Linked DNA regions of Homo sapiens. The protein of the gene in region 1 interacts with the protein of each later gene in a pairwise test. Each region holds a gene or a part of one and is shown in the gene's direction. Other genes may lie near its edges.

Region 1 (5,189 bases):
AGCTGAGTGTCACAGTTACATGGGAGGCTGAGGCAGGAGGATGCCTTGAGCCCAGGAGCTGAAGGTTGCAGTGAGCTATGATTATGCCACTGCACTGCACCCTGGGTGACAGAGCAAGACTGTCAAAAAATAAATAAATAAAACCTGAAAAGCAATCTTAATGATAGTAAGGAATTAATGGGCTTTTTTGTTTATGTTGGTTTATTAGTGTTTTGTTACTTTTTTTAAAACAAATCCTTCTTCTACAGATGCATTCTGAAAATTTTTATGATTAAAAAAAAGAAACATATTAGTTGAGTTTTTGTGGCGTAAGGGCAGTGTTAGTTTTTCTGTTTTTGTTTTTTGTTTTTTTGAGACAAGGTCTCACTCTGTTGCCCAGGCTGGTCTTGAACTCCTGGTCTCAAGCCATCCTCCTGCCTCATCCTCCCAAAGTGCTGGGATTACAGGTGTGAGCCACTGCACCCAGCTGAGACTTTCTGAGCTAAAAAAAAACTGTATGAATCCCTACCCATAAGAAAACTCTTATTTCTATTATTTTATGTTTTAAAAACTGTTTCTATGAAATTATGCATTTTTAAATATACTATAAATACTTGCAGTCTTGTGTTCTAGCTTAAGCTGATTCAGTTAAACTTACCAGTTGTTCAAGAAGCGGAAAGGATTTGATGAGTCTAAAGTCTACAGCCCAAGTTATTTACGTTTTGTAGATTATCTGAAAATAGTCTAGTGGGATTTGGGTAGAGAAGTATATATTTAATCACATTGCATTATATAATTCTTTAGATTGTAGTAATGGGTCTAAATGATTGCTGAATATTTTTCCTTCTGAATTTGTGTCTTCAAAAAGTCAATTATTTGGCTGATCTTGAATAGTGAACTTAAAATACTTTGATGGAAAAAGGAATTATTTCATTCATGATACTGGATTATTCTGTTTCATAACTTTCCTTGATCTAGGTGATCTTGCTGTAAGAAACTCTGTATTTAGGCTGGACGTGGTGGCTCACACCTATAATCCTAGCATTTTGGGAGGCTGAGGCGGGAGGATCACTTGAGCTCAGGAGTTCAAGACCAGCCTAGACAACATAGTGAGACCTCATCTCTATGATAAAACAGATTTTTTTAAAGTAAAAAAAAAACCTCTCTATTTGAAAATTTGATCATAAAACACATTAAGCAGTGTTTATAATGTGAAATAATTTACTTGATTTACTATAAATATACTGTATGTGTAACTGGCAAGTTTGGTATACAGAGTTGGCTTTATACATAAATATACTGTATGTGCAACTAGCAAGTTTGGTATACAGAATTGGTATACACATATACTGTATGTGTAACTGGCAAGTTTTGTATACAGAGTGTGTGTACGTATATACGCACATATACATACATATTTAAATTTGGAATCAGCAAAATTTTTTCTTTTCTAGGAACTAAGCGTCTTGTAGAAGGAACTATTAATCCAGGAGAAACCTGTTTAATCATTGAAGATGTTGTCACCAGTGGATCTAGTGTTTTGGAAACTGTTGAGGTTCTTCAGAAGGAGGGCTTGAAGGTCACTGATGCCATAGTGCTGTTGGACAGAGAGCAGGGAGGCAAGGACAAGTTGCAGGCGCACGGGATCCGCCTCCACTCAGTGTGTACATTGTCCAAAATGCTGGAGATTCTCGAGCAGCAGAAAAAAGTTGATGCTGAGACAGTTGGGAGAGTGAAGAGGTTTATTCAGGAGAATGTCTTTGTGGCAGCGAATCATAATGGTTCTCCCCTTTCTATAAAGGAAGCACCCAAAGAACTCAGCTTCGGTGCACGTGCAGAGCTGCCCAGGATCCACCCAGTTGCATCGAAGCTTCTCAGGCTTATGCAAAAGAAGGAGACCAATCTGTGTCTATCTGCTGATGTTTCACTGGCCAGAGAGCTGTTGCAGCTAGCAGATGCTTTAGGACCTAGTATCTGCATGCTGAAGACTCATGTAGATATTTTGAATGATTTTACTCTGGATGTGATGAAGGAGTTGATAACTCTGGCAAAATGCCATGAGTTCTTGATATTTGAAGACCGGAAGTTTGCAGATATAGGAAACACAGTGAAAAAGCAGTATGAAGGTAAGTGTATTATTCAGGAATCTGCAAGAATCAGAAATCCAGCTTAAACTGAAGAAGAAAAAGGAAATGCTCATGTCATTGAAAGTCCATTCATAGAGCAGGCTGTCAAGCGTGGTTGGATCCAGGAGCTCAAGTGATATCTTCATGACTTGCTTTCTCTCCATCTCTCAGCTCTGCTTTCTTCTCTGTTGACTTCTTTCTCAGGTAGGCATACTCTGCATGCTCACCCCAAACCAATCACTCTAGCTTGGGATGTAGAATACCTTCATTAACTAGCCTGGGCAATTTGCTCTGCAACTGTGAGGTTGTTAACTCTGTATGACCTTCTTGAAATAAGAACCAGTCAGGGATAATTTCCTTAAAGAAAATGGATGTGCTAGTACCAGAAGAAGGGTATGTGCCTGGGCAAGCAAATTTGACAGATGTCCTTGGCAGAATATGATGTTTTGAATGAAAATTCCACATAAAGGAAACAATGAAAAAGAAATATAAAATGGTAAGATTTATTTGTAGCAGAAAAAGTTCTATTGATAAACATTATTTAAAGATTTTTCTTTTATCAAATAGGGACTCAAAGTAGTGCATGTGTTGGTTGAGAAAAATGCTTAGTTCTACTGCCTATTCTATGCAAATTTCTGTCTATGTTTTTACAACTGTGTGATCAGACTATATTTAATGCATTTTTCACTTAACCTGGTAACAGATATTTGGTTGTGTCATATAACATTTTTTGTAGGCATCTTTGAGGTAACTTTTCTTTAATGTATGCATGTTCATAAGCTATTTCTTTAAAATAGATTTGTCTTTAAGTGACTTCTTCATGTGCTTAAGATGTCCTGCCCTCATCACATTGCCTAGCTTACTTTAGCTGATTGACTGACATAAGAGTTTTATACAAACTTTCTTCAGCTCTGCATAGAGTTTTTTCGAAAATCAGGCTTGTTACTGTCCGCTTTTAAAAGGAATATAGTTGCCTATTGAAATTAGATAGCTAAGGAGATCTAAGGAACACGTAGAAATATTGAGCGATAGTAAAGCTGCTGAGAGACCCCTGCAGAGTGAAAACTTGTCATCTTCAAGAAGAATTTTATTTTTATTATTATTTTTTTTGAGATGGGGTCTTGCTCTGTCGCCCAGGCTGGAGTGCAGTGGTGCAATCTTGACTCACTGCAACCTCCACCTCCTGGGCTCAAGTGATCCTCCCACCTCAGCCTCCCAAGTAGCTGGGACCACAGGCATGCGCCACCACACCTAGCTAATTTTTTTGTATTTTTGGTAGAGATGGAGTTTTGCCATGTTGCCCAGGCTGGTCTCGAACTCCTAAACTCAAGCAATCTGCCCACCTCAGCCTCCCAAAGTACTGGGATTACAAGCATGAGCCACCATGCCCAGCTTCAAGAGGAATTTTTAAATGTTATCCTTGACATCAATAAATGTTTATCTTCACTGGAGTCCCTTTCTAATAGCATGAGCTTTATTTGTGGTCATGAGCTTCAGCCTTCAAGGAAAAAGAGTCCTGTTAGTGTTCCAGATAAGCCAAGTGCAGACCTTGAAAGTTTTTTCTCATTGTGATCTCTCACCCAGCTACTTACCTGAATAACAGATACAGTTTTCACAGATGGAACCATGGGTCTGCTGATAATCACTAAAGTTCCTGAAGAGTTTTGATTCTCTCATTAACATGTTACTGGGAGATTATTTCATATTGTAGTTGGTTGGTTGGACAAGACGTTAGAGGTTTTGTTTGAAAATCAGCAAATATCTTTTTTCCCCCTTCTTCTTAGGAGGTATCTTTAAAATAGCTTCCTGGGCAGATCTAGTAAATGCTCACGTGGTGCCAGGCTCAGGAGTTGTGAAAGGCCTGCAAGAAGTGGGCCTGCCTTTGCATCGGGGGTGCCTCCTTATTGCGGAAATGAGCTCCACCGGCTCCCTGGCCACTGGGGACTACACTAGAGCAGCGGTAAGTGGTGGGGGGACTGGGTGAGAGGGGGCAGGGGCTGCTATGCTGCATGCTGCAAGAAGATATCTCCTAATCTGGCGTTTCTGGAACCTCTGCCAAAAAAAAAATCCAGCTCTTGTTAGTGTGACAGTATATTAATACTAGTTGGATAGAATTCCTTGATAGTTAATAGCATTTTATATCATGTAGTGGACACTTCAGGAATTTGAATTATACTCCAAGAGAAACTTTGAGACCCAGATAGTTAGTCAAACAAACACTTACTAAATCTACCAGGACTTTAAGATAATGTCTTTTTCATCTTACCATGAATTGAGAGAAGATGAGAAGAGCTTCCCAGACATGCAGTTTCTCAGAATCTCCCAAGTCCTACAGAGATGCACATTCCCATGACAGCAGCCCACATGCAGTGGCTTTCTCTTATTCTTGTCAGATATTTTAGAATATAATATTACTTTAAAAAAATTGCCATAGGGGGCTGGGCGCAGTTGCTCACACCTGTAATCCTAGCACTTTGGGAGGCCAAGGCGGGAGGATTGCTTGAGGCCAGGAGTTGGACGTCATAGTGAGATCTCGTCTCTACAAAAAAATGAAAAAGAAAATAACCAGGCATGGTGGTACGTGCCTATAGTCCCAGCTGCTTGGGAGGCTGAGGTGGGAGGATCGCTTGAGCTTGAAGTTCAAGGCTGCAGGGAGCCATGATCATGCCACTTTACCTCAGCCTGGGCAAGAGTAAGAGCCTGTCAAAAAAAATTAAAAATAAAAAGCCCCAAGAAAATCCCCATGATTTTTTTAAAAATGAAATCCCCAAGACAATCCCCATGTGAAGATTCTAGAAGTAAAGGATTTCCATTTTTTCATATTATTTCAGACTATTTGGAGACTTAACTCATATGGCCCTACAGTCAGGTTTTAACCCTATCCCTGAATTGACTATAACTGTCTGATTTCCCAAGTCTCAAAATCACAGGGGCCATGAGTCAGTTTTAATATTTGGCATTCTGGGAGTCTGGGTCTGGCTCAAGGACAAGACATGACTTGTTTGTTGGCAGTAGTACTTGGTGGCAAGAATGAATGTATCAATGTGTGTCTCAGGTCTCGAAGTACCGAGGCTGGAGTGCAGT
Region 2 (5,189 bases), on another chromosome or scaffold:
GTAGGTTGCCTGTCCACTCTGATGGTAGTTTCTTTTGCTGTGCAGAAGCTCTTTAGTTTAATTAGATCCCATTTGTCAATTTTGGCTTTTGTTGCCATTGCTTTTAGTGTTTTAGACATGAAGTCCTTGCCCATGCCTATGTCCTGAATGGTAATGCCTAGGTTTTCTTCTAGGGTTTTTATGGTTTTAGGTCTAATGTTTAAGTCTTTAATCCATCTTGAATTAATTTTTGTATAAAGTGTAAGGAAGGGATCCAGTTTCAGCTTTCTACATATGGCTAACCAGTTTTCCCAGCATCATTTATTAAATAGGGAATCCTTTCCCCATTGCTTGTTTTTCTCAGGTTTGTCAAAGATCAGATAGTTGTAGATCTGTGGCGTTATTTCTGAGGGCTCTGTTCTGTTCCATTGATCTATATCTCTGTTTTGGTACCAGTACCATGCTGTTTTGGTTACTGTAGCCTTGTAGTATAGTTTGAAGTCAGGTAGCATGATGCCTCCAGCTTTGTTCTTTTGGCCTAGGATTGACTTGGCGATGTGGGCTCTTTTTTGGTTCCATATGAACTTTACAGTAGTTTTTTCCTATTCTGTGAAGAAAGTCATTGGTAGCTTGATGGGGATGGCATTGAATCTATAAATTACCTTGGGCAGTATGGACATTTTCACGATATTGATTCTTCCTACCCATGAGCATGGAATGTTCTTCCATTTGTTTGTATCCTCTTTTATTTCATCGAGCAGTGGTTTGTAGTTCTCCTTGAAGAGGTCCTTCACATCCCTTGTAAGTTGGATTCCTAGGTATTTTATTCTCTTTGAAGCAATTGTGAATGGGAGTTCACTCATGATTTGGCTCTCTGTTTGTCTGTTATTGGTGTATAAGAATGCTTGTGATTTTTGTACATTGACTTTGTATCCTGAGACTTTGCTGAAGTTGCTTATCAGCTTAAGGAGATTTTGGGCTGAGACAATGGGGTTTTCTAGATATACAATCATGTCATCTGCAAACAGGGACAATTTGACTTCCTCTTTTCCTAATTGAATACCCTTTATTTCCTTCTCCTGCCTGATTGCCCTGGCCAGAACTTCCAACACTATGTTGAATAGGAGTGGTGAGAGAGGGCACCCCTGTCTTGTGCCAGTTTTCAAAGGGAATGCTTCCAGTTTTTGCCCATTCAGTATGATATTGGCTGTGGGTTTGTCATAGATAGCTCTTATTATTTTGAGATATGTCCCATCAATACCTAATTTATTGAGAGTTTTTAGCATGAAGGGTTGTTGAATTTTGTCAAAGGCCTTTTCTGCATCTATTGAGATAATCATGTGGTTTTTGTCTTTGGGTTTCTTTATATGCTGTATTACATTTATTGATTTGCGTATGTTGAACCAGCCTTGCATCCCAGGGATGAAGCCCACTTGATCATGGTGGATAAGCTTTTTGATGTGCTGCTGGATTTGGTTTGCCAGTATTTTATTGAGGATTTTTACATCAATGTTCATCAAGGATATTGGTCTAAAATTCTCTTTTTTGGTTGTGTCTCTGCCTGGCTTTGGTATCAGGATGATGCTAGCCTCATAAAATGAGTTAGGGAGGATTCCCTCTTTTTCTATTGATTGGAATAGTTTCAGAAGGAATGGTACCAGCTCCTCCTTGTACCTCTGGTAGAATTCTGCTGTGAATCCATCTGGTCCTGGACTCTTTTTGGTTGGTAAGCTATTGATTATTGCCACAATTTCAGAGCCTGTTATTGGTCTATTCAGAGATTCAACTTCTTCCTGGTTTAGTCTTGGGAGGGTGTATGTGTTGAGGAATTTATCCATTTCTTCTAGATTTTCTAATTTATTTGCGTAGAGGTGTTTGTAGTATTCTCTGATGGTAGTTTGTATTTCTGTGGGATCAGTGGTGATATCCCATTTATCATTTTTTATTGGGTCTATTTGATTCTTCTCTCTTTTTTTCTTTATTAGTCTTGCTAGCGGTCTATCAATTTTGTTGATCTTTTCAAAAAACCAGCTCCTGGATTCATTAATTTTTTGAAGGGTTTTTTGTGTCTCTATTTCCTTCAGTTCTGCTCTGATTTTAGTTATTTCTTGCCTTCTGCTAGCTTTTGAATGTGTTAGCTCTTGCTTTTCTAGTTCTTTTAATTGTGATGTTAGGGTGTCAGTTTTGGATCTTTCCTGCTTTCTCTTGTGGGCATTTAGTGCTATAAATTTCCCTCTACACACTGCTTTGAATGCGTCCCAGAGATTCTGGTATGTTGTTCTTTGAAACCAATGAGAACAAAGACACATCTTTATTTCTGCCTTCATTTTGTTATATACCCAGTAGTCATTCAGGAGCAGGTTGTTCAGTTTCCATGTAGTTGAGCAGTTTTGAGTGAGTTTCTTAATCCTGAGTTCTAGTTTGATTACACTGTGGTCTGAGAGACAGACAGTTTGTTATAATTTCTGTTCTTTTACATTTGCTGAGGAGAGCTTTACTTCCAACTATGTGGTCAATTTTGGAATAGTTGTGGTGTGGTGCTGAAAAAAATGTATATTCTGTTGATTTGGGGTGGAGAGTTCTGTAGATGTCTATTAGGTCCACTTGGTGCAGAGCTGAGTTCAATTCCTGGGTATCCTTGTTAACTTTCTGTCTCGTTGATCTGTCTGATGCTGACAGTGGGGTGTTAAAGTCCCCCATTATTATTGTGTGGGTGTCTAAGTCTCTTTGTAGGTCACTCAGGACTTGCTTTATCAATCTGGGTGCTCCTGTATTAGGTGCATATATATTTAGGATAGTTAGCTCTTGTTGAATTGATCCCTTTACCATTATGTAATGGCCTTCTTTGTCTCTTTTGATCTTTGTTGGTTTAAAGTCTGTTTTATCAGAGACAAGGATTGCAACCCCTGCCTTTTTTTTGTTTTCCATTTGCTTGGTAGATCTTCCTCCATCCTTTTATTTTGAGCCTATGTGTGTCTCTGCACGTGAGATGGGTTTCCTGAATACAGCACACTGATGGGTCTTGACTCTTTATCCAATTTGCCAGTCTATGTCTTTTAATTGGTGCATTTAGCCCATTTACATTTAAAGTTAATATTGTTATGTGTGAATTTTGTCCTGTCATTTTGATGTTAGCTGGTTATTTTGCTCGTTAGTTGATGCAGTTTCTTCCTAGCCTTGATGGTCTTTACATTTTGGCATGATTTTGCAGTGGCTGGTACTGGTTGTTCCTTTCCATGTTTAGTGCTTCCTTCAGGAGGTCTTTTAGGGCAGGCCTGGTGGTGACAAAATCTCTCAGCATTTGCTTGTCTGTAAAGTATTTTATTTCTCCTTCACTTATGAAGCTTAGTTTGGCTGGATATGAAATTCTGGGTTGAAAATTCTTTTCTTTAAGAATGTTGAATATTGGCCCCCACTCTCTTCTGGCTTGTAGAGTTTCTGCCGAGAGATCCGCTGTTAGTCTGATGGGCTTCCCTTTGTGGGTAACCTGACCTTTCTCTCTGGCTGCCCTTAACATTTTTTCCTTCATTTCAACTTTGGTGAATCTGACAATTATGTGTCTTGGAGTTGCTCTTCTCGAGGAGTATCTTTGTGGCGTTCTCTGTATTTCCTGAATCTGAATGTTGGCCTGCCTTGCTAGATTGGGGAAGTTCTCTTGGATAATATCCTGCAGAGTGTTTCCAACTTGGTTCCATTCTCCCCGTCACTTTCAGGTACACCAATCAGACGTAGATCTGGTCTTTTCACATAGTCCCATATTTCTTGGAGGCTTTGTTCGTTTCTTTTTATTCTTTTTTCTCTGAACTTCCGTTCTCGCTTCATTTCATTCATTTCATCTTCCATCACTGATACCCTTTCTTCCAGTTGATCGCATCGGCTCCTGAGGCTTCTGCATTCTTCATGTAGTTCTCGAGCCTTGGCTTTCAGCTCCATCAGCTCCTTTAAGCACTTCTCTGTATTGGTTATTCTAGTTATACATTTGTCTAAATTTTTTTCAAAGTTTTTAACTTCTTTGCCATTTGTTTGAATTTCCTCCTGAAGCTCGGAGTAGTTTGATCGTCTGAAGCCTTCTCTCAACTCGTCAAAGTCATTCTCCATCCAGCTTTGTTCCATTGCTGGTGAGGAGCTGCATTCCTTTGGAGGAGGAGAGGCGCTCTGCTTTTTAGAGTTTCCAGTTTTTCTGCTCTGTTTTTTCCCCATCTTTATGGTTTTATCTAGTTTTGGTCTTTGATGCTGGTGATGTACAGATGGGTTTTTGGTGTGGATGTCCTTTCTGTTTGTTAGTGTTCCTTCTAACAGACAGGACCCTCAGCTGCAGGTCTGTTGGAGTTTGCTAGAGGTCCACTCCAGACCCTTTTTGCCTGGGTATCAGCAGCGGTGGCTGCAGAACAGCGGTGGCTGTAGAACAGCAGATATTGGTGATCTGCAAATGCTGCTGCCTGATTGTTCCTCTGGAAGTTTTGTCTCAGAGGAGTACTCAGCTGTGTGAGGTGTCAGTCTGCCCCTACTGGGGGGGTGTCTCCCAGTTAGGCTGCTTGGAGGTCAAGGACCCACTTCAGGAGGCAGTCTGCCGGATCTCAGATCTCCAGCTGCATGCTGGGAGAACCACTACTCTGTTCAAAGCTGTCAGACAGGGACATTTAAGTCTGCAGAGGTTATTGCTGTCTTTTTGTTTGTGCCCTGCCCCTAGAGGTGGAGCCTACAGAGGCAGGCAGGCCTCCTTGAGCTGTGGTGGGCTCCACCCAGTTCGAGCTTCCAGGCTGCTTTGTTTACCTAATCAAGCCTGGGCAATGGCAGGCGCCCTCCCCCAGCCTCGCTGCCTCCTTGCAGTTTGATCTCAGACTGCTGTGCTAGCAATCAGCGAGACTCTGTGGGCGTAGGACCCTCCGAGCCATGTGCAGGATATAATCTCCTGGTGTGCCGTTTTTTAAGTCCATTGGAAAAGCGCAGTATTAGGGTGGGAGTGACCTGATTTTCCAGGTGCCGTCTGTCACCCCTTTCTTTGACTAGGAAAGGGAACTCCTTGACCCCTTGTGCTTCCCAAGTGAGGCAATGCCTCACCCTGCTTTGGCTCACACCCAGTGTGCTGCACCCACTGCCCTGCGCCCACTGTCTGGCACTCCCTAGTGAGATGAACCCAGTACCTCAGATGGAAATGCAGAAATCACCCGTCTTCTGCATTGCTCATGCTGGGAGCTGTAGACCGGAGC

What was found. The genes of interacting proteins can lie anywhere in the genome.
Region 2: the proteins of UMPS (region 1) and ZNF227 interact in a two-hybrid assay, tested with the Homo sapiens proteins (one large-scale study listed by BioGRID and IntAct).

The regions. Positions count from the first base shown.
Region 1 is NC_000003.12:124,736,135-124,741,323, forward strand, and holds part of UMPS (uridine 5'-monophosphate synthase), read left to right. Parts: intron 1-1,433; coding exon 1,434-2,105; exon of another isoform or gene 2,106-2,309; intron 2,310-3,889; coding exon 3,890-4,065; intron 4,066-5,189. UniProt on the Homo sapiens protein: Bifunctional enzyme catalyzing the last two steps of de novo pyrimidine biosynthesis, orotate phosphoribosyltransferase (OPRT), which converts orotate to orotidine-5'-monophosphate (OMP), and orotidine-5'-monophosphate decarboxylase (ODC), the terminal enzymatic reaction that decarboxylates OMP to uridine monophosphate (UMP).
Region 2 is NC_000019.10:44,221,706-44,226,894, forward strand, and holds part of ZNF227 (zinc finger protein 227), read left to right. Parts: intron 1-5,189. UniProt on the Homo sapiens protein: May be involved in transcriptional regulation.